2 separate regions of the Homo sapiens genome follow, and region 1 is linked to region 2. The links come from fine-mapping of genetic effects on gene expression. A gene starts in region 2. The other region holds a variant in brackets. All regions are shown on one strand. Distances are from middle to middle.

Region 1 (14,371 bases), 62 kb before region 2:
CGAACAAATCTGTGCTGTTGGCTATGCTATCTCCTACCAGTAGCTCCCTGTCAGCCCCTTCCCCCGTGACCTGCTCTTCCAGAGATAACCCATCTGCCATTGTGTCAAGAGGGGGGTTGAGGGTTAAGCTCTTCTCTGGGGAATCACATGGAAAGTCTAGGCACAGTTCGTCCCTCAGAGAGCCACTGTGTGCCATCTCCATGCTCTGAAGGAGAGACTCCAGCTTCTTGTTTTGGATGTTTATGTCCACAAAATATTTCTGAATGCCTTTATCTTTATCAGCCAAGCTGCTCCGCATGGTTTCGATGACCTGTTTGAGCTGTTTAATCTCTTTCCTGGCTTCTTTGAGTGCCAACTGGGCCTCTACCCGGTGACACTCCTCCTCAATCCAGTCCTCTCGCATGCGGGCCAGCTGGGACTTAAGCTCCACGATTTCACTTTCCCTAGAGTGCCAAGACAAGCATGGTTAATTAAAAAAAAAAAAAAAAAAAAAAAAAAAACTTTCAACTGGGCAACAGGCAGTTCAGGCAGTTCTGGCACAGAGCCAAGAGCTCATACTCTTCCACTTGAAATACAGATGTGAAATCAGTTTTCAATGCAGGGAACTCAAGAGAACACAGAAAAACTTGAGAAAACACTCCAGCCTAAACTGAAAGAAGCAGTACATTTTCTCTTTGGCGGAGATTAGCTGTGAACTTTCTCTTTACTTGTAAAATGGCTAAAGTAATAATAGTAATCAGAATCAGAATCAAAATAGCTACCACAATTTTTTTTGAGTACTCATTATGGGTCGGATATTGCACTGTGTTACAAGTCTTATCTTCTACTCAATCCTTAATATTTGAAACTTTATTATTAGAACATCTTAGCATCTGTTAGCCTGTTTTTATCTCCATATCCTACCCTTTCCAAATGTCTATAGTTTGTGGAAGGCCAGTTCACTTTTAATTACCTAAGACAGAAGGTAGACTGATAAGTTTTAGCCTTGCTAAATTGTTCATATGGTATTCCAATGATAAACATTTTTGAAATAATAAAATGCTACACGTGGCAGGGACTTTACATGATGACAAGCTGCTTATTCTGTCTCCTCTCAGGTAGGATAATATTGAATTCATCCTACACTAAGGAGAATCTATCCTATTTTTCAGATCCTTCACAGGACAACCCTATTTCAAGATCTTTGTATATAAATTCTTTCTTATATATAATTTTTTCATATTCAGTCCTTACATTCTCAGTGGATATGAAGATAGGGTAGTCAGGATCCTCATATATATGAAGAGACATCAATATTGCTCATTTAAGTTTAGGCTAGAATATTTTCCCAAGTTTTGCTGCATTCCCATTCCTTCCTCGAGTGCTCCAATCCTCCCATGGACTCTGCAAATCACAGACCAAACACTTCCAGACATAAGGTCTGACTCACCCCAGAGGGGAGTTTGGGTCTCAAGTCTATTTCAGACAGATGATGAGCCAGATTAATTCGGAAGATGAAAAATTTCCCTTCCTCGCAGTCTGCACCCTTACCTGCCCACAGTTTTAGCAACCAAGGTATTGAGTTTTCTTTATATCTTTGTGGCAGCAGAAGAGGAGGTTTGGGCTGATCAGGTAGCCCAGACTCTTAGAGAATGCACATGCCACCCTCACCCTGAGCTCACAGCTACCCTGGTCAGAGCTTTCCTGGTCTGTTCCAAAATGTTCCAGGGGAAAATGATCAAGCAGAAAAACTGGCCTGCTGCCCAGATGTCAAAAGTCTTCTCCCTCAGATAAGATCTCTTAAGCATGGGCTTTTTTTTTTTTTCAGCCTTAACACTTGGCCAAGAACAATGAGCCCCTTCCTTCGGCACAGAAATAGCATGCAGGAATCACAATGCACACAGATATCCATTCATGCACGGATATAAACACGGCTTAATTGGTCCACGGTTGTGACCCATTCTGCTGGAAGTATGGGATTGTTCCCGCACGTGTTTTTGCCATTTAAAAATAGTCATGCACACACCTGATTATTTCACATCAAAGCTGTATACACTGCAAAACAACAACAACAAAAAACGACAACAACAACGAAAAACAAAGGTTCCCCTCTAACCTACGGGCCTCCCTGAACTCCTGAAACAGCCATATCACACAGAGTTATGAAATGACTCTTTTCAGAGGCTGACTTTAAAAATTTGACCAAAATTGAATACAATCATTTTTTCTTTTCTATCTTTCTATAGTTTGGGTTCATATTTCATTTTATGGAGAAAGAAGTTGTCCTACACCCCACCGTTCAAGGAAGGCAGATTCACCTTTCATGGAGTCGGCGCTCAGATTCCTTCAGCTTGGTTTTGAGGTGTCTCACTGTCACCTCTTTCTGCTGCAGTGGAGTCAAATACTGCTCTGGGTTTGGGGGTCTGACACCATGATTTTCACCGCAAGACATGTACCTTCCAGAACGCCTGAAACAATCCAAGTAATGAAATGTTACTTTTTGCCGTTTCCTTTTCTATAAAAAGAAGAGTAACACAGAGTGTTATCAACTGAATGTCTGTGTCCCTCCAGAATTCATATGTTGAACTTCTTACCCCAATATGACGGTATTAGGTGGTGACGACTTTGGGAATTAGCCCATAAGGGTGAAGCCTTCATAAATGGGATTAATGCTCTTATAAAAGGAACCCCAGAGAGCTTTCTAGCTTTCTTTTTCCACCCTGTGAGGATACATTAAGAGGTCAGCAGTCTGCAGCCCAGAAGACAGCCCTTCCCAGAACCAGACCTTGCTGGCACCCTGATCTCAGACCTAAACCTACAGTATGTAGCCCATGGTTCTCGAAAGATTTGGACCAACATCTAGAGTACTTTGTTATAGCCACCCACATTGACCCAGACACAGCTAACAGCTTGAGAAGGAATGGTAGCTGTGTGCTGGGGTCTTAAACCTCAATAATGGGTGACCTCACTTCAGAAGGTGAGCTGTAATAGAATTGCCGATCTTAGGACTGTTAATTACTTTGAAGATTGAAGGGGGTATTGGTGTATTTATGGAGAGAATAGGGACCGTGGAGGAGGAGAATTCTCTATGGCTTAGGAATGTTCTCATACAAAATAATGCACCATTGTCCAGGTGCCTGAGCTGTCAGTTCAGAGTAACATGCAGCACAGTGGGTGAGGGTCAGGGGATGGGCCCGGGCAGAAGAGAAGGAAGCCAGCCAGAGGACCTAACTTTCTGCACAGTGTGCCACTGCCTAAAGATCCTGATGGCTATTTGCTGAATGCAAGTTGTTCTAAAATCAATCCCTGCTGTGAGTATGCCAGTTTGGAGGAAATGGAAAGATCCTTCTTCTGAAGGGAAGAAGTTTCTTCCTCTACTTAACTCTCCCCAGTGTGTTTTGTAAGACAGGCTCAATGTTTTACAAAACAGCCCTTGCTGGAATCTTGGCCCCTCTCAGGCCTGGCTGGGAGCTGGGAATCCCTGCTGTAAGAGAGCTGACTGACGAGAATAGGGATGCCCAGCAGGAAGAAGGCCGAAGGAGGAGGGCAGCCAGCTCCTTCCCTGACTCTGGACCCAGTCCCAGCCACTATGCTGCCAGCTCCCTGAGCACCTGCCTGCCTCCAAGATGACCTGTGTCCATGCCCACCATCCAGTCCTCCTGTCGTGGCCTCTTTGGAAATGCAGTTCCTTCTTTCTGCTCCACACTCCCTACAATCTCATATGAATTAACTTGTTGCTTGCTCTTCAGACCTCAATTCCATTTCACTTTCTCAGGGAGGCCACCCCTGATCGCTCCAGACTGCGTTGGACACCCTCCCCACCTTTCACACACCCCTGTAGCAACAGGTGCCTACAGAATCATCTTAAGTTGTTTTTGTTTGTTTGTTTGTTTGAGATGGAGTCTTGCTCTGTTGCCCAGGCTGGAGTTCAGTGGCGTGATCTCGGTTCACTGGAACCTCTGCCTCCCAGGTTCAAGCAATTCTCCTGCCTCAGCCTCCTGCTGCCTCTGTGGCATTTTCTCTCCCTATTCAGGAACTGCTTAGATTGCTGTGCCTTGTTAGAAATTGTGGCTTGCGCTCTTTCTGCAGCAGCCCTTGAGGAATGAGCCGAATGTGGGAAAGAAAAATGCAGTGTCTTGTAGAATCAGGCAAGGGATCAAGAGTTGTATAACTTTTTTTTTTCTTTTTTAAAGAAAAGCTTACCAAGTAGGACAAACTAAGATGCATGAATTAGGTGAGCAGGACTCACCTCATGATGGGGCTACAGTCGCTTCCTTTGTAGGAGCCTGAGTTGCTACTGCTTGGGGAAGAAGGTGCATAACTGGGATGGATATTGACAGGGCTCAGCTGATTCCTGCACAGCATGGACAGAAGGTCCTTTTCCCGCGGGGATGATGGGCTGCTGCCAGGCTTGTGTGACGAAGCTCCATTACTCCGCCCATGAGGACCTCGACTGGGAGAAAAGAATGAAAAATGTTAAAATTCTTGGGGCTACAGATGCCCAAGGGCTAATGTCTTACTCCTTAAATCTAAGGAAATCCAATTTATAGAGTTGAAAGGCGCAATACAATTATTCGTGTAGACTGTCCTTAGGAGCGGCCTTCTTCCCACCTGCCTGGTATTTTCTCTCCTTGTGACATCAGCACAAGCAACCTCTCCCTCTGTTGTTCTTTCAAATAGTTTCTGACCATAAAGCTTTTTTTGGATAACACCCAATAGCCTGCTAAGAACATACACAATGTAGAATATTGATTTAGCTCAGGTTTATTTTGGAGGCTGTTTATTTTGGAGGCTGTTTTCAAGATATGGTTTTTGTTCTAGTCCACCTGTTTCAGTTTAGAAATATTTGCATTTGGTTCATGTCAGGGTAAGAAAATTAATGCGGTTCATTTGGAGGATGGGGGAAGGTGGTACCCCATACAGGAGGAGGAGAAAACAGGGCAAGATAAACAGAGCACACATAAATGCATCATTGGTAATTTTGATTACTTAAAATTTTTGTTTCATTT[T/C]CTTCTAGCCCCAGTGACTTAAGACAACCTTTGTCATTTAACTGCTGAAATACTGTAACAGCCCCATCTTGGTTCTCCTGCCTCTTGCCTTGCTCCCTCCAGTAGAAGGTTGGCTTGTGGCTGGAGTGGCCTTTCAAAATGGAATCTGATTCACTATCCTCCTCAAAGCCTTGCGATGGTCCCCCACTGCCTCCAGAACAAAGGCCAGCCTCCTTAAGATGGCTCACAAGGTCCAATCCCACTACTCCATCCAACCCCATCCTCCACCACTCCTCACTCCTCCCTCCTCCCTCTGTACTACAGCATTCCAAATCACTTACAGTTTCCTGAAGGATCCATGCTTGACCATCCTTAGGTTTTTGAACTCATAATCTCCTCTAATTAGAATGTTCACCTGCTCCCTTCTCTAAGCCCCTGGATACCAGGATACTTCCTACTTTGAGACTGATGGGAACGTACTCTAAAGAGCCTTCTCTATATTCTTCCTTCCCTAGGCCAGTGTAGGCACACTCCTTAATGCTCCCTAAAACTCTGTGCAAACTTCTACCATTGGACTTATCACATGGCGTCACAACTGCATACTTATTTGTCCTTCCTGCTAGGCTAGGGCAACCTTGAGGGCAGAAACAGCTTGTTCTTTCTATCCTCCTACTTTTGATACATGGTAAGTGTTCCCTAAAGGACTGCTGAATAAATAAACCAGGTGTGAGTCATTGGCACTGCCACTTAGTAGGAACTTAGGCAAGTGAGCCACTTAACATGGGGATCAAAACACACACACATGCACACACACACCCACCCCTTTCCTACCTTCCTCACAGAATTGATGTGAAAATCAAATCAAAGAATGCATGTGAGTACATTCCACAAGCTATTAAGGGTAACTCAACTGTAGAGTATTATTAGAGGATAAACTTGTTCAAACTTCACCATTAATCCTGACAGAGATTTGACACCCAGTAGTGTAAGGAAGCATCTTGAGAATGTTGAAATTACTTAAACAGGATAAAGTTCTATGTCAGGAATATTACTTGATGGCAAAAAAAGAGAAAACAAGATAGCTTTCATATAGTAGTACTGCTTTCTGACAAACCTTTCTTTGCAATTTTAATTACAGCTGTATCCAACTGACATCTTAATGAGAAATGTGTGTAAATGTGAATGCAAGTGTGCATGTGGGTACACTTGGCTTCAAAACCATGATCACTTATTTACAATCAAATATAATTTCAACTGGCTGTCAACCTTGCAAATCAGACATAAATAAAACGTAACCAAGTTCTAAAGTTAAAGTTATTTCCTTTTGAAATCATTCAAATGAACGCCGCTCTTCTCTTCGTGAGAAGAGGACACTTTATACGGAACAGATGGGCTGATGGCTTTGTGACAAAACCAACTTCAGCAGCCCATGGTAGAAAGAACTTCATGAGTAGCTGAAAGGAACATGTACCCTGGTGTGCATTTTCTTTTCCATGCTTCACTTCTAAGTCTGGCATCAACCAGACTATTTCTTAATCTGATTATGAGAAATATGGAAGATTAGCTATTACACCTTAGGCAGGAATGTAAAGAGCTATCCCATATTTTGACCTGGGGAATTTTATTACGAGTTAACTTCCACTGAGGACCTTCTGTGACCCTGGCGCTGTTTCAGGTGCTTTCTGAATATTGATCAGGAAATAAATTATCAGACAGTTTGTAAGAGCTAACTTTTTAAAAAGAAGCAACATGCTTAAAAATATCAGTTCTCTTCATTTAGTAGTTCAAATGCTAACATGTATAGGTGCAAACTCATTATAGGCATTGATAGGAAACATTTTCAAAGGAGACACTGAGATTCCATGTTTGTCATGGCCATGAACTGTGAAACCCAATGCTGTCCTCTTCAGCCCATCCCAGATCCTTCAGTCTGGTGGACAAGAAAAACGCAGTCCACAAAGAGGAAAGAAAATTCTGCTGACCCTGAACCCTTCTACAAACCTGAATACGTAACTAGAAGGTCATAGACAGAGGAGTGAAGATGACACCTCATGAGTGACTCAGGTGAATTTCGATTCCCTGACCATGGCTCTGGACTTCAGGTAATATCATCATCATCGTCATCATCATCATCACCATCATCACCATGATCTAGGGTTGAACTGTGTCACCCCCTGCAAATTGATATGTTGAAGCCCTAACTCCCAGTACCACAGAATAATGGGGCTTTAAAAAGTGATTAAGTTAAAATGAGGCAGTTAGGGTGGGCCCTAATCCAGTTTAACTGGTGTCCTTATACAAAGAAGGAATTTGAGCAGACATAAACAGAAGGAAGATGCTGTAGAGACACAGGGAGAAGATGGCCACTACAAGCCAAGGAGAGGAGCCTCAGAAGAAGCCAACCCTGCAGACATCTTGGTATCAGACTTCCCTTTTCCAGAACTGTGAGTAAATACATTTCTGTTGTTTAGGCCATCCAGTCTATGGTACTGGGTTATGCAGCCCTAGCAGACTAATATAATCACTACCACCATGATTACCATCATAACCACCACCAGCAGCAGCAGCAGCAACAGCAACAGTACCATGTCTCCTAGTACTACTTTCACCCCTACTGACAAAAACCACCTTTTACCAACGCTTTCACTAAGTTCTGGGCATCATGTCAAGCACTCACACATATCATCTCATTTAACTCAGTGAGGTAAGATGCTATTATTATCCCATATCCCAAAACAGGAGACTGAGGCTTGGGGTCATACACCTGATAAATAATGGAGGCTAACCTCAATCCCAGGTCTGTCTGACTCCAAATCCCAAGGTTTTTCTTTTTCTGTCTGATTTTTATCTTCCAAACAGATTCATGTTTTAGTTTAAGAAAGATAATTCCTTAGAAATATCAGCAGAGTTGCCCTTCTATGAGACAAGATACTCTGTAAGCCTTTAAAGTTTTTGTTTTAAAAATAACTCGTCAAAAATATTCTCACCAGCTCCACCTGTTCCTCACATGTCCCACTGATTGACCAATCTTCCTGTTAGCCTTCCTTCAGGGAGCTAATTCTCCACAGAGAAAATTCATTCACTACATGGGGAAGCAGCCAATTGAAAGGATCACAAACTACTACAGAGTTTGGCAGAGATACCCAGCTACTCTAGAGGAGCTGCCCCCCCATGCGTGGCCCTCCAGAACACAAAATTTATGTGACATTGCTGAGATAGTCCATGACCAAAATCTACTGATGGTACTCTGTGCCTGGGTGAGATTCTTTTATTTATTTATTTACTTATTTGAAACAGTCTTGTTCTGTTGCCCAGGACTGGAGTGCAGTGGTGCAATCTTGACTCACTGCAACCTCCGCCTCTCAGGTTCAAGCAATTCTCCTGCCTCAACTTTACGAGTAGCTGGGATAACAGGCACCCACCTACATGCCCGGCTAATTTTTTTTTTTTTTGTATTTTTAGTAGACACGGGGTTTCACCATATTAGCCAGGCTGGTCTTGAACTCCTGAACTCAGTTGATCCATCCGCCTTGGCCTCCTAAAAGTGCTGGGATTATAGGCATGAGCCACTGTGCATGGCTGAGATTTTTAAAAACTGAGGATAATGGATAGAACACTGCCATTTTCAATTTTCCATCTATTAATTTTTGTTAAACCTTTGAAGTCTATTATTGCTTGGCTATAACAGATACTAACAGAAGCATTCATCTGATTTGCATATAATTATATTTGGCTATTTTATGTTTAATATGTCAAATTTTGACCATGAATTCTAGACTAGAATATTTTCTCTTAGTCACTCTGTATTATTGACACAACCTTGGAATTTAACCACAAACACTGATTCCTTTGAAATATTTAAGTTGGCTTCATCTACAGGCCTTCCTTTTTTATCTTTTTGCCTTTCTATATTGTTTGATACTTTGTTCCATGTGTATGTCATAATTTCTTGAGTGGGTTATATAAATGGTTTATTCTTAGAGCAAGCCACATCTGATTTACACAGAATGTTTACATTCATGTCCTATAATCCCAGAGGCACTTTATTGCCAAAATGGTGGTGGTGGGTGGGGGCTGGGGATAGAGCAATTGTGCTTTATTACTGCGGACTTCACTCTTTTGTTACAGGTTTGTCTGGCTTCAGCTGTATTTTTAATGATAAAACTGTGCCCTGGGGGTCTCAGGTCGCCTTATAAACATCTGCTAAATCTTCAGCTCACCCAAGAGAAATAGAAAATATTTGCTTGCTGAGTCCTGGAAAGGCAGGCTTTTGGAAACTAAATAGATTTTCTCCAGGAAGAGACCTTAAAAAGTCACACAGTACAACTGTCTTTTGGATACCGTGGCCCAGGGGAATCAAGTGACGTGACAAAGTCAGAAGCCAGGTCCCCTCACGTTCTGTGGCTCCCTCCATAGCTTTCTTTAAGTCTCTGCTCAGAGCTCAGTTCACCACTGAGGTATCCTAGGACCCACCAAGCTAAAATATACCACAAACCACATTACTCTCTATCTCCTTCCCCTGAGTGTTTTTAAAAATAATTATATTATTTTTCAATTTATTGTCCTTCTTGTCCTACTACAATGAATATAATTTTGTGGAGTTTTGTTTCCTCATAGTAGATGCTCAATAAATACTTGTTAAATGAATAAACAAAGCCACTGGTGGCAAGCACAGAATCCTGGGGCTTACAGTCCCTCCCACTGAATGTGCATAGTGGCTCCCATGTCTCATAGTCCTCTCCACCAATTCAAATAACATCAATGGAGAGAATTGGTTGATGCTTGCTATGCTCCATGCTCTGACTCAGCATTTTACTTTTATTAACTTGTTTAATCCTAACAATAAACCCTCTGAGGTGGCTGGGTCTATTTCACAGATAAGGTAAACAAGGCATGGAGTGGTTAAACAACTTGCTCAGAGCCACACAGCCTGGAGTTGGTGGTGCTGGCATTTGAGCCAAGGCAGCCTGGTTTCAGAGCCCACACACCCAGCTGGTGTGCTCTATGGGGTGGCCACCATGCCTATGAACGTTACTACACTTTCTTCACTCCTTCCCCAGGTAAATGCTGGGAGTGGTCAGGGAGTAGCTGCTTCCTTCACAGAGGTTAAAAATGGAAGTCCAGCTAGAAGAAAAAAAGGGTGAAGTCAGAGGCTTCACAGCTAAGAGACTCATAGCTTCACAGAGGGGAGGTAGGAGGGAAGTGGGAGACCACTAGCTTCCTATGCAGATGAGTACACAGGTGAGTAAGGGAAAGAGAGAAGGGACAGGAGGAGTGGGCATAGAGTCAAGGGTTGGATGGGAGACAGCCATGGATGTACAAACACAGGTGAGCCATGTGACCACAGTTGGCAAGACAGGAAAAACTACCAATTTAAAATCACTGTAAAAAAACAAAACAAAAAGCCTCACTGAATAATAAAATATGAACGGACAGTAATCCGGGTGGTTCTACAGATGCACAGGTGCAGGTGAGTCACCTGTGTAAAGCGTCTTAATTACAGAGCAGGAGATGGTGCCTACTTGCGTGAAGAAGAAGACCGCTTGCTTCCCGCAGTCGACATATGGACCTCAGGAGCGGAAATGCTGCCTGTGCTGCTCGAGGAGCTAAAATCAGCTTCACTACCTGAAAAACAACAGGGGAGAGAGAAGCGTGAGGGAAAGGAAACTAGAGAACACATTGGCCAGTTCCCTGCCTTCCAGGTCCCTGCTCCCTGCGTTTGCACACTATTGGCAAGTGCCAAGATTCCAGGGCTTCCAGGCTCACAGCATTTTCCTCAAAGCAGTCAAGAGAAGGCCCAGTACAAGAACATCATTTCATAAACACAGCTAAGATGCACAGTAAGGCTGGTTTCATAAAGAGGCCAGTCTTCCTGCAGACACTGTCAACAGTGACCCAAGTGCATCAAGAAATGCACTGTTCTCCCGTATGTGAGGCTCTCACTCCACAACAACGGGCTCACCCTATTTCAAGCAAAAGAAAAATAAAATACTTATCAGTCCAAGAGTAGTTTTTCCAAGAGAGTTTATCTTTGGGCTTCTGTAGTCAGCTACTCATACTTCAATTTGGCAAGTTAGGTTTGGAGACAGTTAACCAATGAGAGGCAGTCAGGAAAGAGCAAAGCCTGGGCTCCCAGACTGCTGCACTGGCACTATCTGAGGTGACTTTCTCTGACTGCAGTTTTGGTTTTTCTTTAAAGAATAGATCCTTAACAGAAAAGCAGAAATTTAACAGTGATAGAACCTGTAAATTACACTGAAATTTGGAATTTTAGCTTCAGGGTGGGATTACAGGTAGGGATGTTCATTAGTTTGCAAAGATCACATGATACTTTGAGTACAGACAACAGGTGGGTGTGTAATTATAATATAAATATGCTGTGCAGTAAAATAATTTATATAAATTCATTCTAACAAAAATATGTAGTTCTGAAAGAGTAATAATGGAAACATTCCCATACACTGCCTGGGGAAGTAAGGGGAGGTGGAAGAGGCAAGCTAGACAATGAGAAGAAGAAAAAGAATTTTTTAAAAACGTGAAGTACCATGTGCTTCTGAAAAATAAGTCTAGGTATACAGTTTAATTTGACCTTGTTGCTCAACTCCTACCACATAATTTGTGCCTTTTCTGGTCTAGAACCCAGAGCCAGCTCACATTTCTGAGCTAAAGAAAATATGAATAGCCTAATCCTTGATTTTCTAACAAGCAGTGAACAATAATTATCATAACAATGGCTATTTATTGAGTGTTTACTAGGTCCCAGGCCCTGTTCACGATACTTTCTATGCTATATATTATTTAATATTGACATCTTTGTAAAATAGACATTAATCTCACTATTTTACTATTGAGAAAACTGAAGCTGTTTGTCTGAAGCTTATAGGTGATAAATCCTGTCCAGGACCAAATCTTCATGCTACTTCTCCCATACTATGCTTTGCCCTCAGAAAGGCAGTAGGAAGAAGCAGGGGAACAGGAGAAGTTCTTAAAGAAACTATACATTACCATCTCCCTAAAAGGTCAACATGAACCATAGGTACAAGATGTGGCCAGACTCTGGCCTACTAGGGAACAGATTTCTCTTTCTGATGGCCTCTGTTAGTTTTGCTAGAGAGGAAGGTAGGTAATCACAAGGCAGAGAGAAGAAAAAATCCTTTCCCTGGTTTCCAGGAGCTCTCAGGAACTCCAGCCTCTAGCAAGTCCAGGTCTCTAGGAAAGAGACCAAGAATGACCCATTAGCCAAATGACAGCAGTGACTCCTGGCTCCCAGTAGAATTCTGGGAAGATTAGCAAGGTAGTTTATCAGAACTGAGACCAGCTATTCCTTCTGGATTGCAGAGACTTTGTCTAATGATGTAATGAGCTCCTAGAAGCTCCCCAAACTTAATCAGTTGACTCTAAGGAATACACTGGTTAAACTGTAGTAGTTTACAATCTGAAGGATTCATGATTGGTAATGCAGTCCAGCAGCATGAGATTCCTGACGGCCTAACTCAACCAGCTTTGTTTGCTAGTAAATTATCAGGTTGGTTATTAAATGATAAAGGTAGGTGATTTTCAAAAATAGATCCTTCAGTTACAGCCATCAGGTTTAAGATACTATTTTCTAATGTGAAATTATTACTCTGAAAAACACTCAGCTTTCATTCCTTTCACAAAAGCCCATCGATTATAATTGAACTGCTTGCCTAAAAGCAGAAATTCTAGAACAGGAACAGATAATTGCGGAAAATCCATTGTTACCCCACGGTGCTTCTGATCTGTGGTAATTATGTTCTCTGAACTGAAAGGACAACTTTGTTCTATATTTTATTGCTACTGGAACTCAATATACTGACTTTTATGTATTTGCAGGGCCTAAGGTCACTTTGTTTCAGCACTTTCCTCTCTTACCTTCTGTACATCTGAAAGAGATTAGAAGGCACATTCGGGTCCCTGCAGCTGCATTCAGGCCTATTTGAATAGTACGATAGTGAAAAATGTATATACTACTTCACAACTATTTCAGTTCATGAATTTAAAGAACGTAACCTGGTTAATGCAGTGTAAAAATCAGTGAACTCTTTTTAAGGGATACACAGGAAAGCTAAATGTAATACATCATCTGATATACTTTCTTCATGTACTAAGCAAAATAACTAAGAGAAAAGCTGGAGACCTAATCACACCCCCCGCCCCCGCCGCCATTTATCTATTAGTTGGCAACAAAGATACAAGGAAGGAGAGGCATTCTTTATTCATTTCCTTTAAACAGTGTATGCAACTAAGGTATTGTTTTCAGTGCTCTTTGGGGTTATTAAAATCACGCACAGAGTACCTAACCTAAAAACATAGAAACTCGGCTGGGCATGGTGGCTCACGCTTGTAATCCCAGCACTTTGGGAGGCCAAGGTGAGTGGATCACCTGAGGTCAGGAGTTCGAAACCAGCCTGGCCAACATGGCAAAACCCTGTCTCTACTAAAAATACAAAAATTAGCTGGGTGTGGTGGTGAGCGCCTGTAATCCTAGCTACTTGGGAAGCTGAGGCAGGAGAATTGCTTGAACCAGGGAGTTGGAGGTTGCAGTGAGCCAAGATCATGCCACTGCACTCCAGCCTGGGTGACAGAGCAAGACTCCATCTCAAAAAATAAAACTAAAACAAAAAACAAAACAAACAAAAAGAAAAAACGTAGGACCTCAGCTAGACAGCCTGGATTCAAAGCCTGCTCCTAACCCATATTAGGTGGAAAGTTTTAGCCAAGTTACTTCACTTCTCTGTGTCCCAGTTTCCTAATTGGTTAAATAAAGATGATACTCATAGCACCTGCTTCATGGGTTGCTTGTAAAGAATGAATGTCATCCTCATCAACAGTCTTTGTTCCTCATCAATATTGTTTTCGATCAGCTGCCAGGTTAGTGGAGTGTTATCCCAGGACTGAACAGACAGGATGAATTTGATGACCTTTAAGATAATGCTCTGATGCCAAACGCTTGGTGACTAAGCATCCTGCTGCAGAAGGCACTTTTCCAACTCTCAAGAACCTATGCCCAGTGGCCTCCAGAAGTTCTGGCAGTTTTTTGTTTTCATAGCACTGCTGAACTCTTTTGAGAGATATTCCTTTTATTTATAACGTTAGGATAATAAGCGTTCTGTGCATGTATGCTAACGCCAGGGAATTAGAAAAGGAAGGAAAAATGAAAACAAAAAGAATACGTGCCCAAACTGATAACTAACTAGACTTATTTTTAAAGCACTGCCTGTAATCTGGTCTCTTAGGACATTATTAATTTTGCCTGTTTTCAAGATATGGAGCAGTCCTCATACATCAGAACATCACAGTATAGAACAATCCTGAGATCTACTAAGCAGTATTAAGCCATTCTAAAACACTGATTTAAGTAACCCCAAGCCCTCTCTTATCTT
Region 2 (16,758 bases):
AAGGAAATTCTTTCTCCTCCTCCTTACTTTGCTACCATCTGAACACAAGTTAAACCTATTATGTAGACATAAATAATATTATGGCTAAGACTAATGACATGGGACCAGTAAATATAGAGTCAGCAACTACAATTTCCAGGGACTGTGGAGGCATCATTCCACATCCACCTTGCCCCATGGTCACTGGTTTAAACAGCCTGGCTGGCCACCGTTTCTACCATCTTTGATCCTTATTCATCTTGTGATGCTACTTTGGGCATACCCCTCATACTCCTCATACCAAATCCCCAAATACACACAGACCACAAAGAAGTGAGGCTCAGCCTTCAGTGTGCACAAGAGTTATCTGGAAAGCCTGTAAAATGCAGATTCCTGAGCCCTTTCATTTCAAGACAATAGTTTTGGGGTAAGGCCATTGTATCTGAATTTTAAACAAGTTTTACTGAGGATTCAAAAGCAGGCAAACACCATACTCTAAAATTGGAAAACATTCTCATAAAGACAGGTGTTTTAGAACCTGAAAGATTTTCAGGTTAAGTACCTTAATTTGCTTTCAGACATAGTCCAATTCCATCATGTTTACTTTTCACCATTCCTACTGCTAAGAATTGTTGATTAAATGGCAAAAATTTTGCTCTTGGCAAATTGCAGTTACCACATTCTCAAAGAAATACTGCCTATATGCCTTTCGTTTATAATCTATTTCATTAGGTACATGCTTCTGTGGTGAGGCTGCTAAGCATTTGAAATATTTATTATACTACATTTCCTAGGTCTCATTAAAGTGATACTAAATTGATAGGGTCTTTTTTTTTAAATTCACAGGAGGGTAGCAGTCATTCAACTGTAGTATAATTTGGAATTGCAGCTCACTTCACTTTAAGCAGTTCATCTCAGTTCTAATCATTATGTTCAAAGCTTCACTCTATCCAGATGCCAAGTTTCCCCAACTGTACAAAAGCACAGGAGAAATATTTCTGTTTGGCAAGGCCTGGCAAATTTTTGGAGGCGTTGTCATGCCTCAACAGGGCACCAGTCAGGTTATAATTTGCCTTAATTGCTTGTGCCACAAACAGCAACAATGATTACCTCTAGGTCATTGGCACTCAAAGAAAGATTTCTTCCCAGCTACTGTAAATAACAAAATACTTTCTGCAAACACCTTACTTGGGATTAGACTGCAAAGAATCTCAGATTTTGACCATTTAAAAAAATTGACCTGGTACATGTATTTAATGCGTTAAGTCGCACACTTGCCTGTGTATCTGTGTGTGCACATTAGAAACATGAAAATAACTCAGATAAATTACTGTTCTCCCATAAAACAACTAGTCTTCTATCTGCATAATTTGTTCCACCTGCCATGTTTACAAGGCGCCCCAAGGAGAACTAGCTTAAAAGCCAGCAATCCATCTGCCTCTCAGTTCTAAGGGGGTAATTATTGCCTCAACTAAGCAAAGAGGAATGCACGGCATGCTGCTAACCATGTCAGGTGACTGATGTATGTGCCTGACACACTCACCTAGGTCATCGGCTTTTCTAACAGTGGCTAGGGTCATGGTACAGTAACAAACACAATTCACTACTTACAGAAAAGGGGGAGAAAAATGGATAGAGGCTACATTCAATGGGCCAAACCCAGAACACAAACCAACAATGTGGGCTTTATCACTTCTTGTGTTAAAAACAAGAAACATGGGGGAGAAAAGACAGGTTGACTTTATGCCAAAACGCTGGTTTAAACAAACAAACAAACAAACAAAAAACTTTTTTTTTAAAAGGGGACAGGAAAGGAGGTGTTTTGTTTCTATTAACTTCCTATTAACTGTACTTCCTTACGTATTTTTAAAATAAAGCATTAATTAATATTTATTAATAATGTACAATGTTCTACTTGCTGTGCACATAAAATAGGGCCTGACCTCTAATACTGTATAAACTTAACTGTCTCCAACTAAGGTCATAGCGACCAAGACTGAGTACAAACTGTGAGGAATACTGTTTGAAGACTAGAATGATGTCCAAGCACAAAAACACTCATGTGCTGATGAAATGCACAAAACACATGCAGATCTTCAAAGAAATTTCGCTAAGAAGAAGCGATTAAAAAAAACAAAGCTCTTTGGGGACACACCCCAAATGAATTGCAAAAGGTCACACACAACTTCTTCCCTCTGAAATGAGGCAGAGACAACATACAAATTAGCATATAGAATATCAAGTCATTAAATGTTCCTTGCCAAAGCTCCCATGGGAAAGCAAGAGGGAGGCAGTGGAGTGCGGAGGGAAAACAGAAAGTGGGTAAAAATGGACAGATCACTTTGGAAATAGTTCTATTCTTTTCATTTCACAGGCCGGTAAAATTATAAGAAAAACTTGAGGGTGGAGTAGAGAAAACATCAACATTGAGTTGACATTTGTTTTGCTGAAGTATAGCTACCATCCACTATCATGAATTTTTGTTTCATTACAAATGATAGAAAAGCCAGATTCTCAAAATAAAGTATAATTCTTTGTATTAAATAAATGTTTATAAATGTTTATGAAGCTCATTACATTATCTTTTTTAAAAAAGTAAAAATTTTAGAACATATGACGCTTTTCATAATTAATGCTTTTGATATAGATTTGAGGAAAGAGTCTCCAGTTTGCAGTTCTGAAAATGTAATTTTCAAATTAAATTTCATTGCATTTGAGGTGACACCTTCCTCTATAATTTCATTACCAGATTGTAAGAATTCCCTTAACTAGGCATGGCCCCTTTTACATGAGTGAATGTGATGATTTATAAAGAAGAGAAGCTAATACAGGAGGATTACTGGAAGGTTGCGAAGCTATGATGACAATAGATCCCTTTAAATTATTTTAGCTTTGTTCTAGTAAAGGATGGTATTTTTTAATATTTGTATGCACCTTGTTCTCTGACTTAACTGCCGTGATTAAACAACGAACACACCTTCTGGCCTCAGTGTTGGAGTGGCTGGATTAAAACGAGCGATTTCCCCCTGCTGGTTGGACATGTCTTACATTCTCTATCTCACTGCCTCCAGCGTTAACACTCCCTGTAGTACCAAACCCATTTATTTTCCACCCACCAACCGGCCTCCTAAAGCATCATTAACATGCCCCCAAAGGCCTTGCTGCTGTCAATTTTAGCCTACACAGCACTCAAAAGCCTTTGTGGGGTTTATCAGAGTTCTGTAGGAAAGGAAGAGAAAGGCATTAGACTCAAACCTTGGGGAACTGACAGCACAGGAAGATGAAGAGAGATGAGGGAGAGGCCCAGGAATGGAGGAAATCCTATCTGCAGGCAGGGTGCAAGGCTCAAGATTGAAAGGTTGTTCAGAGACACCCATAATTATATGCTTCTGCCACTCAATTTTCATCTAGTTAATAGCAAAAAGATCAATATCTACTTTCGATTTTCATGTACAGCATTATAGCCTTAGCCAGAGACAGGTCTCCTAGGAAGGAGGATGATTCAGGAAGTGGGTCCGGGGAAGAATGATTCATAACCAAAATCAATAATCATATTGGTTTGCCTTCATATATTCTAAAATATATTTGGGGTTTTCCTTTTTTTTGTTGTTGTTTTGAACAACTTTTTCTTTTTTTCTGATAACACTACTCACCCTGAAATCCCTCACAGAGGAATTGATTACAGGGAGAGAATACCAGGAATAAATGTGGAACTGAGTTATGTACACAAAGCTCTGTCAGTTTGAAATGACGTGCCCAGAGTTCATCCACACTCACCAGGGTGAGCTCTGGGCTCCAAAACAGAGTTAAAGTAAACAGCATTACATTCTGCAAATATGACTCTAGATTCTAGGAATACTAACTGTGATAGCTTCTCAGTTATCCTTTTGTTTTCTTCTTGGGGGAATAGTAGGCAAAGCAGCAGTGGGTTTCCATCTTAAACTAGATTCATGTGATTCAAATATAAAGAAATAAGTTTTAAAACATAATATTTTGATAGGGTTTTTTTTTTCAGAATCAAGCAGACAATTTGATTAGCAAATTGTTAGCAAAAAATTAGTTAGCAAAAAAAAAAAAAAAAAAAGTAGGCAGTGCAGAATTTCCAACATACAACTTATGCAGAGGACAGAATAACTTTGTGGAAGTATGTAATAAATCCAAAGCTGCATTTATAAAATCCTTGAAAAATGTAGCTGTGAGCCCTAAATGCAGTGGAATGTTAGGTCCTGCTAAATTAGAGCATTAATCATAGCATCCTGATTCATGTGTTTCTTCTCATACATGTGTTAATCTTCAAGTTCCATGTTCCCTAAATAAGTTCTAAAACATTATCCACTGTGAAACATTCTTCACTAGTCATAAGACAGTCACTCCTTTAAATTTTACCCAAATTCCTAATACTTCTCAAGTAACTCCTTCTAAGTCATGTGCTTCAATGGGAATAAAAAGCTCTGTCAAATGATAATGGTGGCACCTTCAGGAACTATCAAGAGATTTGTGCCCTTACCAAACATGCTCACAACTTTAAGGAAACTTTCTTAATCACGTGCCCAAACAGACATCCATAGTTCCTTGTATTAAGAACCATCATTTATTAAGCACTTCTGTAAGCCAGGTACCGTGTAAGGTGAACATTTAGGTACTGGTCTCATTCAACTTCACAGCCACTCTACAAGGCAAGTATTATAATCTCATTTTATGGATGTAACAACTAAGGCTTAAGGAGGTTAAGCAACTTGCTGAAGGTCACACAGTATGTAAGTGGTGAAAGGGCCAGGGATTCCAGCCCTTCAGGCTTGACAGATCACAAAGCCTGGGCTCTTCCCTACTAAACCATAAGGCCAGGCCAGCCTTAGGCTATAACTCTCCTTGATCTTGACCTCATTTATTAGGAATTGCTTTATCTTTGGGGAATTTTATAATTAGAGGTACACAGGCTTCTAGAAGTTGCTAGTATAAAATTCAATCCAATATTTTTTCTACATTTAACAAAGGAATGCATCTTTAAAAACAGTCATAGAATGGCAGTAATTAAAAGATCAGGAATGGACAGATGCTGGAGAGGATGTGGAGAAATAGGAACGTTTTTACACTGTTGGTGGGAGTGTAAATTAGTTCAACCATTGTGGAAGACAGTGTGGCGATTCCTCAAGGATCTAGAACCAGAAATACCATTTGACCTAGCAATCCCATTACTGGGTATGTATCCAAAGAATTATAAATCATTCCACTATAAAGACACATGGACACGTATGTTTATTGCAGCACTGTTCACAATAGCAAAGACTTGGAACCAACCCAAATGCCCATCAATGATAGACTGGATAAAGAAAATGTGGCACATATACACCAAGGAATACTATGCAGCCACAGAAAAGGATGAATTCATGTCCTTTGCAGGGACATGGATGAAGCTGGAAACCATCATTCTCAGCAAACTAAACAGAGGAACAGAAAACCAAATACCGCATGTTCTCACTCATAAGTGGAAGTTGAACACATGGACACAGGGAGGGGAACATCACATACCAGGGCCTGTCAGGGGGTGGGGGCTAGGAGAGGGATAGCATTAGGAGAAATACCTAATGTAGATGATGGGTTGATGGGTGCAGCAAACCACCATGGCATGTGTATACTTATGTAACAAACCTGCATGTTCTGCACGTGTATCCCAGAAATTAAAGTATAATAAAACAAAGGAAAAAAGTCATAGAAACAAGAAGTTAGATTTTACATTCGAAATTATAAGCTAGAATAACATATGAAAATTCAGGTGTGAGATTCCAATAAACTGAACTATATGAAACTGCTGTGTTTGTAGGTCACAACAGCCAGAAATGTACCACCTTCTACAATTCATCCTAATAGTAGAAGTGTAGTTCTAGGCTATAAGGGACCCAGTATGGGCCCATTCACAATGCACCTGCAGTGCACACGCTTCACGCCTCTGGTGGCCTCCCGAGGGTACTGTACCTGAGCAGAAGCTGTTGCTGCTAACGGTCCTCGCTGAGCGCCCAGAGCTGCTGGGGTTGAACTCTCTGCTCTCTTCCTCAGAGAAAGGAGACTCAGAGGCTGGGGACACTTTGTGCTGTTGTTGGGGCATATGGGGCCGAAGAATCAACCGGGGAATTCGGCTTCGAGAAATCTCCTTGTCATGATGCTGCACTCTGTGCTCCTTCTCAAAATTGGACATCAAAAAAGAAAACAAAAGGAAACGCGTTTCCCTCTCTTAACTCCTGTCGGTTCCTTCAAGGATCAATTTCTAAGAAATCACATTTCTGAGTATTGAGTCTTCACAGAGTAGTCCTTCTTATCTCAGTTGCTGAAATGAGCTTCAAAACTCTTCCAATGAGTTAACCTTTCTAATCTACTGAATAGCACATGTCTGTGTGGCACACACACACACACACACACACACATATACACACCTCCACTCACTAGCTGGAAGGCCATCCTACTTCCCTATGCTGGTCCTGACTCACCTTCCCACCCTGACTTCTATCACATTCAAGCTTCTGCCTCCCAAAGGCTCTTTATTAACACCACACTCTGGCTTACTTGATAGCCTTCAGACTTCCATTTTGCTTTCCCTAAATTAGCTGTGACAGTCTGACTTGTTTTCTTGTCTCCTCACAAAGTTGAACCCTATACCTGGAACAGTTATTTCCTGATAGCTCACACACAATTATCTTTAAAATCCCTCCTCTTCTGGACAGGATCTTAATTATTCGTTAATATCCTGGTACACAAGGCTTGTTGCCAACAGAAAAGCAAACACAAATCCGATACTCGGGAAGATGGCTCCACCTTTTACATCATCTTTAATTTTTGTTTTCCTTACAGGACATCCATAAGAAGAGATTTTTCTTTCTCCTTAAAAACGCAGCATGAAGTACCCTGCCATTTCGTGGTTTTAAAAATGCGTAACAGTAATATTTTCACAATGTTTTCCAACTTATAAAGTGCTTTTCCAACCATTTTCTCATTTGATCTTTACACACCAGACTGTACATAGAGAGCACACCAATGAATGTCCCTATTTTCAGATGAGGAAACAGGCTAAATGGGGTAGAGATGCTTAGGCAATTCTGCACACCATGCCAGAAGTAGAACGAAATTCAAATCCAGTGCTTTGCAGGGTCACCACCACCCTGCCTTATGAAAATGGATTCCTAGGAGGAGCGTTTTGCAAAAATTCCACTGCTTCCTCCAACCTCTGCCACTGAAAGGGACTCTTTGGCTTAGGTAACAAACACCCTTTCGAAACATGACCTACTGTTCCTTCCACCGGCTTACCAGGAAGGGTCACGGCCAAAATAAACACCTCTGGGAGGCCGGCACATGGCATAAATTGAAGGGTAAACCTCAGCAATGGGGAACTTCGGAGGGCCCTCAGGCATCCACTCTACCCGGGGGCCGCCAGCCGCACGCAGCCTCGGATTCGCCCTGCACATCTGCCGCCCAGCAGGTACCATGCGCCAGCCACTCCGCCGGGCACACCGCAGACCCTGAGCTAAGGCAGGGTCACTGACACGCGGGAGTCCTCTTTTCCCAGTCGCGGATGCATCAAATTCCTTTCATTCACATCACACACACAGGATATCAACTGAAAGCTACACCCCACAGTCCCAGTTTCAGGAGGTGGGATTAACCCTCCAATCATGTCATTCTCCAAAATCTATTCCTCCAGTACCACCTCCCCATCTCCTGGATCTCAACTCCTAAGCAATGCCTCCTGCCTTCTCCAGACCCCACCACCACCTCCTTCCACCTTTCCCCAGACTCTAAATGTCACCCCTCCAGCTCTCATCCCGCCGCTTCTCGCCCCGCAGTGCCCGCCTTCCCCGCCCTCCAGTGCCCGCACTGCCCCGCGCTCCTTACCTTGCTCTCGCGGAGGGGCCCCATCGCGCCGCTGCCCGCCGGCTCCTCGCGCCGCCGCTGCCGCCGTCCAGGAGGAGGCACCTGCGAGCACGGAGCGAGGAGACTGCGCTGAGCCGGCGCGGGCTGCGGGCGGCGGCTCTTGGTGAGGCTCCAACGCGCCGCCGCCGCCACTGCCGCCGATTGCTCTGGGCTCCGAGGGCACGCCCGACCCCGCCCCGGCCGGACACGTGGTGCCGCACTCGCTAGAGGCAGCTCCTGGGGCGCCTCCCACGCCCTCCCTCACCTGCGGCCTTCGGGGCAACTCGACCGCGCCTGGGCGCGCCCCACCCGCCCGATTTCCCCACGGCACTCCGCGCCCCCCCAGCCAGAGCCGGTGTCCCTCCCTCTCCAAGGAGCTCGGCCCGGTGTAGGCAGGCTGCGGCTAGCGGCATCTCCAGCCCAGGGGTGACCCCACCCTCTTTTTTTTTTGCACTTGATCTCAGGTTTGAAGTGGGTGGCGTTGGATGGAGTGACTGAGAAAAGCTGCGACATCACAGAGAGACAAAATAGAGAAAGTTTTCCCCTGGCCACCCCTCCTTGGCCTCCAGGTCTTAAGTCAGCCTACAGCTCCCCACAACTGCCTCGCCCGAGAGCTGCAGAGATCCCTCTCGTACCGGAGCCCAGCCAAGCCAGTGCGTCAGGACCGACACAGCCTCTGGGTTCCGGGATCTGAAAGGCTGCGATGGATTCTACTTGGAAGGGGTTGCATCAGAAAGGCCTTCAGTGGTCAGCGCAGCTCCCTCCGGCTTGGAGAAGCCAGGCTGCTATGTAGCCAGAGAACAGTCTTTTCCCCAGCGCTGCCCTGCAGCTGCCCGGCTCCAGGAAGTAGCTCCAGCACACTGCTAAGGGAAGAGCACTGGAATTGAACTCAGAAAAACGAGTTCAAGCCAGCACTCCAATCGGTCCCTTCAGCCTGAGTGCCTTTATGCCTAAAGTTTTTGTTGTTGTTTCGTTTTTTGTTTTTTTTTTTTTCCGTTGCTGTTGAAACGGCATCTCGTTCTGTGGCCCAGGCTGTAGTACAGTGGCGCGATCAGGGCTCACTGCAACCTCTAACTCCTGGGATCAAGGGATCATCCCGTCCAGGCCTCTCAAAGTGCTCGAATTACATGCGGATGCCATTGCATGCGTGGCCTACGCCTACGGTTCTTGACCCTTCTGAACTTCAAATTTACCCTTGTTAAATTGAGGGATAATAATAGTGATACCTACCTCTAGGATAGCTGTGAGGGTTAGGTGAGGAAAACAAACAGCTCTATCCAGCTGATTGAACAGAACTTTCCAAAGGGCAGCTAAGTCAGGTCCAGATGATCCAGTCAATATTTGTTGATGCCTTTTACATGACAGGCAGAAAAAGCATTTGTGATGCACACAAATTTGTTTAAGAAAGCTCGAAAATCTGTCCAACTGGGGACTTAGAATAGGGTACATCAGCTGGGCCAAGGGCCTTGATTTATTACAATTGCTACCCTTAAATCTTATCTGGTGGTGGAATTCACCATGTATAATGACTTATATACCCTTTATTCAGAATTGGAGAATATTCCAAGCAGTGCGACACTCTGATCCTTATGCACCAGTGTCCTACATAGGAGGACTGTGCTCCTCGAAAACTGAGGGTCATTGTCCCCTTTCATCCATCCTCCAAACAGCATTTCTGAGTCCTCAACTCTCAAGCCTAAGAATATATGTTGTGAGTCTAGAGAGAGCCTGAAGCCAGAGGATTAGTGGAATCAATTTCCCTTCTTCCTATAACTCCAAAAGAGAGCTTCCTCCATAAATCTTCATGCCTTTTCAATCTACTTAGCTCTCTCAAGCAGTGAGGTTGGTAATTTTAAGATTCTTTATTTGGGAAGAAGAGGTGATTAATTCATACTTTCTACACCCACAGCTGTTTCAAATATGGACCTCAGGAAAGTGATGGTCCAGGATGATTCATACAACTTATTATTCCTAAAATTATGAGCCTGGGATCATATACTGTGAGATAAGAACAAACTTTTAAAGTTAATGGATGCTTCTGAGTTCCCTACTTAGAATTGAGAATTGACACTGGGGACCTAATAGCAGAAACACCCTCCACTGAGTTAGCCAAGTCAGAACCTCAGTGTCATCGTGGACTTTTTTCTCTCATTCACCTGACCCACACATAGCATAAACCACCAAGTGATCTCTATGCCACCCAAGTAATAACGGTCTTGAATCTGATTACTTCTGTCCACTATTTGTCTCCATTATCTTCGTGTAGAGTGTAAACCACAGTCACCCTAGATTATTGCAATAGTGGTCTAACTCAAGGTCTCTTGCTTTCAGCCTTGCCTCTTATTCCTTTCTCTCCGATCAGTGTCTCCATTTTTCCACAAGCCTTTATGAAAAGCTAAATCAAGTCATGCTTCTCCGTGAAAACTCATTAATGATTTCCTGATTGTCCTCCAGGTAATACTGAAACTCCTTAATGTGGCACACAAGGCTTTCCTGATCTGGCCGCCTTGTTTACCTCTCCGATCTCATTTCTTGCCACTCCTCTCTTTTGTAGATACTCCCTCCCCTCCCTAACCTGTCCCTTTGGTCCCTGCCACTCTTCCCTTACATACAAATGGATACTGCTCAAACTGTAGCACTTTCAGTTCTCGGAGGTGGAGGTTTTGTATTCTCTTTTTCGTCGAGACTGCTGCACCTGCCTCTGTTTAGAACATTTCTTGCACTACATCCACCTATCCTCCTCAACTCTTAAAGATACATTGTTTCATTTTAGACAGCTTCTTCCAGGAAACCTCCCCTGATGATTCCAGGACACTTATTTTTACCCCCAAGAGAGCTGTTATGATCTCCTCAGAATTCCCCATTTACTTGTTTGTTTTCACCAAAGCTTGTAGGCAGTGCCTAGTACAATTCCTGTTATACAGTTGACACTCAATACATAACTGTCAAATGAATTAATGCCTGAATGAGTGAATTCTATAACCCCATAAGGGGCCCATCAGTGCAAGATAAAGAACATAGATACAACTTGTTTTGAAAATGATTCAGATAAAGCTGCCTCCACAATGTATTTGTATCTGATGATTGGGTGTGTGCCTAAAAAATCCAACATGTGTTCAGTGACAGCTTTTACTGCAGAAGTGCAGGCACTGAGAGGCTGTGCAGTAGCCTTGCTGTCGCCATAGCAACCTAGCAGAGGGAAAGGCTGATGATTTAGTGTTCAGATGCCTCTTAGCTCTGTACTTTTGGAACCCAAGCCTGTTTTTCCACTGTTCTAAAAGGCAAGTTTTACCGATGATAATATCTATGCCGCCTTAATTTCATTCAAGTGTTTCTCATGTCATTAGAAGAAATGTCTTGTAACATTTGGATTATACCATCAAAGAGATATAATCTAATACAGCATAATATGGTCTTCTTTCCCCTGCTTTAAAATAGTCTTATGCATCATTTTCATTTTTTACTTAAAGACTTACTTTATGGTCTTGTTTTATCACCTTTTGGCTTCTTTAAAAATTAATGTATTTCTGGCTTTTAGAAAATATCAATTGCTTTAGGATTTAACCTTGAAATATTATAAATAATATATAATAATATATATATACAATAATATATATATATAATATATATATATATCTCCTGGCAAAGCACAGGAGAGATAGGGTATTGTAGACTGGGAAGGAAGGTAATGTCTTTATATAATTATTCCCTCAAATCTGGGATAAGTTACTTGATTGTTTATGTGAAATTTGTAATTAAATGATTCCTACCTTTCGTATGCACAAAACTTTATATTTTCAGAACTCTTTCACATATATAATTTTATTTGAGCCTCACAAAAATCCCGTGAGGTACATGTGGCCAATCTCTGAGACCAGATAACTGAAAAAGCATAGATTTTTATTAATAGGAATCCCCTAGACTGCAAACTTCACAGAGAAGACAATACAAATGCACTGCTGAAAAGAAAACGCCTGCACCAAACAACCCAGACACATCACGGTCCCTCACATTCACTCTTCCTCACATCTCACCTGTGTATGCAGGGGGTTTTCTTGGGCTCAATCAGGGCTGACAAAGCACCATCTCCTAATCCTATCAGCTGTGTGAGCAAGAGCTGCTGTCTCTCTCGGTGACCTAATGTTGGGTGATCTGCACAGCAACAAGGAGCAGCTGACGTGCTTCACAACACGTCACGAAGGAAAGAAACTGCATTCTGGGGCATCGTGAGATTTTTTTGTGTGTGTGGTGGGGTGGGGTGGAGACCCATATTTTTCTTACCAGGGAGAGAGCTGCCTGTTTTCCCATAAGAGCATGTGTGATTGATCAACCCTCCTCCTTTTTTTTTTTTTTTTTTTTTTTTTTGGAGACAGAGTCTCACTCTGTCGCCAGGCTGGAGTGCAGTGTGGTGCGATCTCAGGTCACTGCAACCTCCGCCTCCTGGGTTCAAGCTATTCTCCTGCCTTAGCCTCCTGAGTAGCTGGGACTACAGGCGCGCACCACCACACCAGCTAATTTTCGTTATTTTAAGTAGAGATGGGGGTTTCACCATGTTGGCCAGGATGGTCTCCATCTCCTGACCTCGTGATCTGCCCGCCTCGGCCTCCCAAAGTGCCAGGGTTACAGGCATTAGCCACCGTGCCCAGCCCAACCCTTGTCTTAATGTATGTGTGTTATCATTACTATAGGTTGAGGTACTTTGATGCTGTAAAACTGAAATGACTAGAATTGCACAAGATCACTCCCCCAGGAGGTGGCATAGAGGTGCTTGGGGCAGAGAGGGCAGTGGGTAACCTGAGGCAGGCCATGCTTGAACATTCACTGGGCTCAGAATGTGTCAATTATCTCTGCCCGACAAACGAGTGTTCAGTCAGAGTATTCTCTCAGTGAATAACAGAAATTAAGGGCAAGTCCAGGGGAAGAGGCAGAGGTTGGGGGCTTGGAACGTTGAAGGATGGTAAGGGTCTAATCCTCTGATGCCTTATGGGAGAGCAGACATGAGATAGCCTCCCCCAAAATGGCTTTTTGTTTGTGGCCTTTGGTTCATCTTTGAAAATAGGGTAGGATATTTGTCAAAAACATAGGCACGGTGATTGCATTAAACAAAATGGGGACACATTGTTGGACAAGTAGGTGTACACTTATTAGGAAAATGAATCAGAATGATTGAAATTAAGACGCTCTGGAAAGTATGCGTGTAAAGGTTGCCATCTAAGTAGGGGAAACTGAGACTTGACATTTACCTAGTGAAATGCTTCATGTGATTAGACAATCTGTTGGTCTCACAGGTGTACAGAAAAGGCAAAGGATGTTATCTGTAAGACATGAAAAGGAAAGCCTAAATCCAGTAGATGAATTCTGGGGCTAATAGAGAAGCACCTTCCTTCCCCAAGAAACCAGAAAGTGTGGGAAAAGCAGCTGAAAGTTGCCTGAACCCAGGAGGGCAGCTATAGAGAGAGGATGCTTCTCAGACATGCCAGACACAGAGCAGATACACAGGCTGGAGGCTCTGAGGGGTTCACTCAGCATCCATAGCAGTCTAGGCTTAGAAAAAAAATTGTAATCTGGGTTCCTGGAAAGCAGAACAATGGTAGATTTGAGTTACATTAAAAACAATATGTTCTCCATAATGCACTTTATTTCCATGATTTTATATTTTTTGCTTCCACTTTCTAGTAAACATCTTAAAAAATAACTTTGTCTTTATTTCTGCTGAGAAAATGAGAGCAGGTGCAAAAGAGGAAGACTTTGAGTGTCTCTTCTCAAAGAGCAAGAACACTATTGCCAAATGGAGCTGAGCACCCCCAGAGGCCAACCAACTACTATGATGGCAGCTACAGCAGGGAATGGTTGGGCTGTTGGTGTGGGGGTCACTGGTGCAGTTGTAGAGCTGAGGATAGTTTTGATTGCTGCTTTATTCCCACTTCCTAGGTTATTCCTGTGAACCACTGTCCTTTATACCTGAAATCTTGTGACCTTGTGAGTAAAGCTAGCCTTTGCTGTGTACTCCCAGCTCCTCTCTAACGCACTGCAGAAGAATTTGTAGGAAAATAAAACTAGAATTTGGGAATCTGGCCTATGTAGTTTCATCTGCCCATGTGTCCTTTTTAGCTACTTCTGCTTATCAAGAGAAAAAATATGCCTTTTTAAAATGATAACTATTTTTTTCTTAAAAAAGGATACTAAACCATGTTATAAAAATTTTAGAAAAGAAAAAAGATACTCATTATCTCATTGCCTTAACATCAATTATCCCTATTCCTTCTGTTAGCAGTTTCATGTATTTACTTTCAGGCTTATCTACTGTGCATCAAAACCAGCATGTTAAAATAAGAATGAAATTCTAAGTGGCATATGGCAAGTGAAGTTACTACTCCCTTCTGTCTTTTCTCAGATTATCAGGGACTGATCTGAGATACAGGGATCTCGGGCCTCCTTATCACTACTGACAAACAGCTGAGGCTGCTGCTGGAAGCCTAGAAGTTTCAGGATGGCTTCCTAGATATCTGGTCCTGGTGGAGACCGGACCCATCTGAAGCTTCAGAAAAAGTTGCTGGTGGGGAATTAGCAAAGCTAAGGCTGGAGAAATGACCTTAACTCAGAGGCTGGTAGAAAAGTACCTGTGCCCCTTTCTAATCAGAAGCCCAGCTACCAGCTTGCCATAATGTGAACCTAATTCAGGGAAGCACTGGAAAGTGAAATGAGTTTCCCAAGTCTGGAAAAACATCTGTGATGAGAAAATGTAGTTTAATAAAGGACATGAATTCTTGAGTCTCATAGGCCTGAAATTGAGACTTTTTTTTTTTTTTTTTTTTTTTTTTTGCTCTGACAGTGCTACTCCAGTCAAGTTATTTAACCCCTGTAGGACTCAACATTCAGTATGTGCACATTAGCTAAAAAGGAAAGAAGAACCAGTTGCACTAGTTAATGTCTTTGGGCAAATTAACTTTTCTGTGCCTCATTTTCACATCTAGAAAATAAACTTAATAACAGTAATTAGTTCATAATACAGTTATAGGGATTAGATAAGAACAGACGCAAAGCCTAGCATTTATATCTGGCACATGGTTAGAGCTTAATAGATATCCTCTGTCCCTCAGGATCAAATGGCTCCAACCACCATTGCTGTGTCTTGCTTGCTTGTTTCACATTCACCTCATCCTAAAAAGTTTCATCTTAATTTTTATTAAAGGGAAGCAATAAGTTTTCTCTCGATGACTTATGGCATATAAAGGAGGACACTGAATTTCTCATTAGAAAAGATATTGCCAGGACTTTTCCTCCAGAAGGTAGAGTAGAAGGCATGATGAATGCACAGACACCTATCACTCATTCATTCATTCATTCATTCATCCATCCATCACTTCTTACTTCATTCCTATTCTGAGCCATGCACTGCCTCAGCCACTAGTTCCGAAGTATTCAAAGATGAACAATGATTGCTGCCTCAAGTGTCCCAAGGTCTAATAGAGACACGGACATGACCATCAGCTGATAAACTATTCAGTGTGTTTGCATGAGATCTGGACACCCAGAGGGCTTGCCAGTATCTAAATTAGACTGGGGTCTGAGATGTTCAGGGGTGAGTTTTAAGATGAATTTTGAAGCATTGAATACATCCTATTATAATCTGGTTTCTTCAGAGTTCCTTTCTCTTTATTGTTCCTCTCCTCTCTTCCTCCTCTTCTTCTTCCTTTTTCTCCTCCTCCTCCTTCTTTTTCTACTCTCTCTCTCTCTCCCTTTTTTTTCCCTACTTTGAGATACTTCTGCCACCGTCCAGGCCCCAAGGATTGATGCGGAGGAAAACAGCTTTTGGGCTTCCCCTTGAATCTTTACTGCCTGGATGTAACCTTCTAGAAGAAAGGGATTTTTCTCAAATCTTGATCACCTAGGACGGCATCAAGACAATACCTGGTGTTTTGTTAATTAGCAATAGTTGACATTTTAAGAACACCATGTTATACTGCCACCTATGGATTTGTTCATGAAATTTTTTTTTGACAGGTAAAGTCTCTTGGCCTGAAACGTAATAAGGGTTAATAATGCCTTTATTCTAACTCTCAGGGCAATTTCAGAAAACTTTCAAAATATACGGCTATACGAAACTGGATGTCAATAAATGGAACATTATTTGGTGGTTGTGAAATAATGAGCAGGTGCTTTGATAGACAATGGTTCCAAACTCCTTTCTTCTGTTTACCTGCTGAACCACTTTAGGCAAGCTAGGTAACATCTCTGTATCTTGGTATTCTTATTTGTAAAATACATGCGTGGTTCTACTTCATAGGTCTATTTTGAGGATTAAATTCTATAACACTTGTAATAAGCCCAGCATAGTCCCTTGTACAAACTGGGGATTTAACAATAGATTTCTTGGTCTCCTTTCTTCTCCCCTTCCTCAATTCACAATGACCCAGAGGAGGATAAACTATGTAATTCCATTTTAGCTGAACAGTCAGGTAAATCTCTCTAAAACAATAATGATAAATGATGTTCATATGGTCACTACATTATGTATTCCTAGGCATCTATTTTATTTTTTAAAAAAATACTAATCTTTATATTTTTGAGCAGTTTTAGGTTTACAAAAAAAATTAAAAGGTATAGAGAGTTCCCATATATCCCCTTACTGAGATCTATCCCAATCTACCTGATTAGTTAGGTATAATTATACTATGGCTTTTGAAGAAAGTGTAAATAAGTGCCCATCAAATGGATCTATATCTCCCATCTTCCCCTGCCCTTTGCCTGCCTATTACCTTTGGATTTGCCTCCAAGGTCTTCTCTGTCTCCCATGGTGGATTCAATGCCAAGACTCCTAGAAGTTTCCCAAAAGTCTTAACAGCACTGCCTCTCCTATGACCCGAAGCTGAGCATGGT

What was found.
Region 1: its variant is fine-mapped to the expression of SYBU in nasal epithelium (TOPMed, PIP 0.99).

Annotation. Positions count from the first base shown.
Region 1 is chr8:109,575,571-109,589,941 of GRCh38, forward strand. SYBU (syntabulin) reads right to left here. Exons shown (of 7, transcript NM_001099754.2): 4 at 10,490-10,592; 5 at 4,229-4,432; 6 at 2,298-2,447; 7 at 1-443. Among named protein-coding and RNA genes, the nearest start is that of EBAG9, 43 kb to the left of the region's middle. The variant T/C (reference allele first, on the strand shown) is at 4,989.
Region 2 is chr8:109,636,776-109,653,533 of GRCh38, forward strand. SYBU (syntabulin) reads right to left here and starts at 8,047. Exons shown (of 7, transcript NM_001099754.2): 1 at 7,861-8,047; 2 at 5,953-6,157. The coding sequence starts at 7,884. SYBU-AS1 (SYBU antisense RNA 1) reads left to right here and starts at 7,354. Exons shown (of 2, transcript NR_161375.1): 1 at 7,354-7,447; 2 at 8,343-13,953. RefSeq lists a silencer at 7,812-8,301 and enhancers at 7,814-8,750, 8,412-8,731.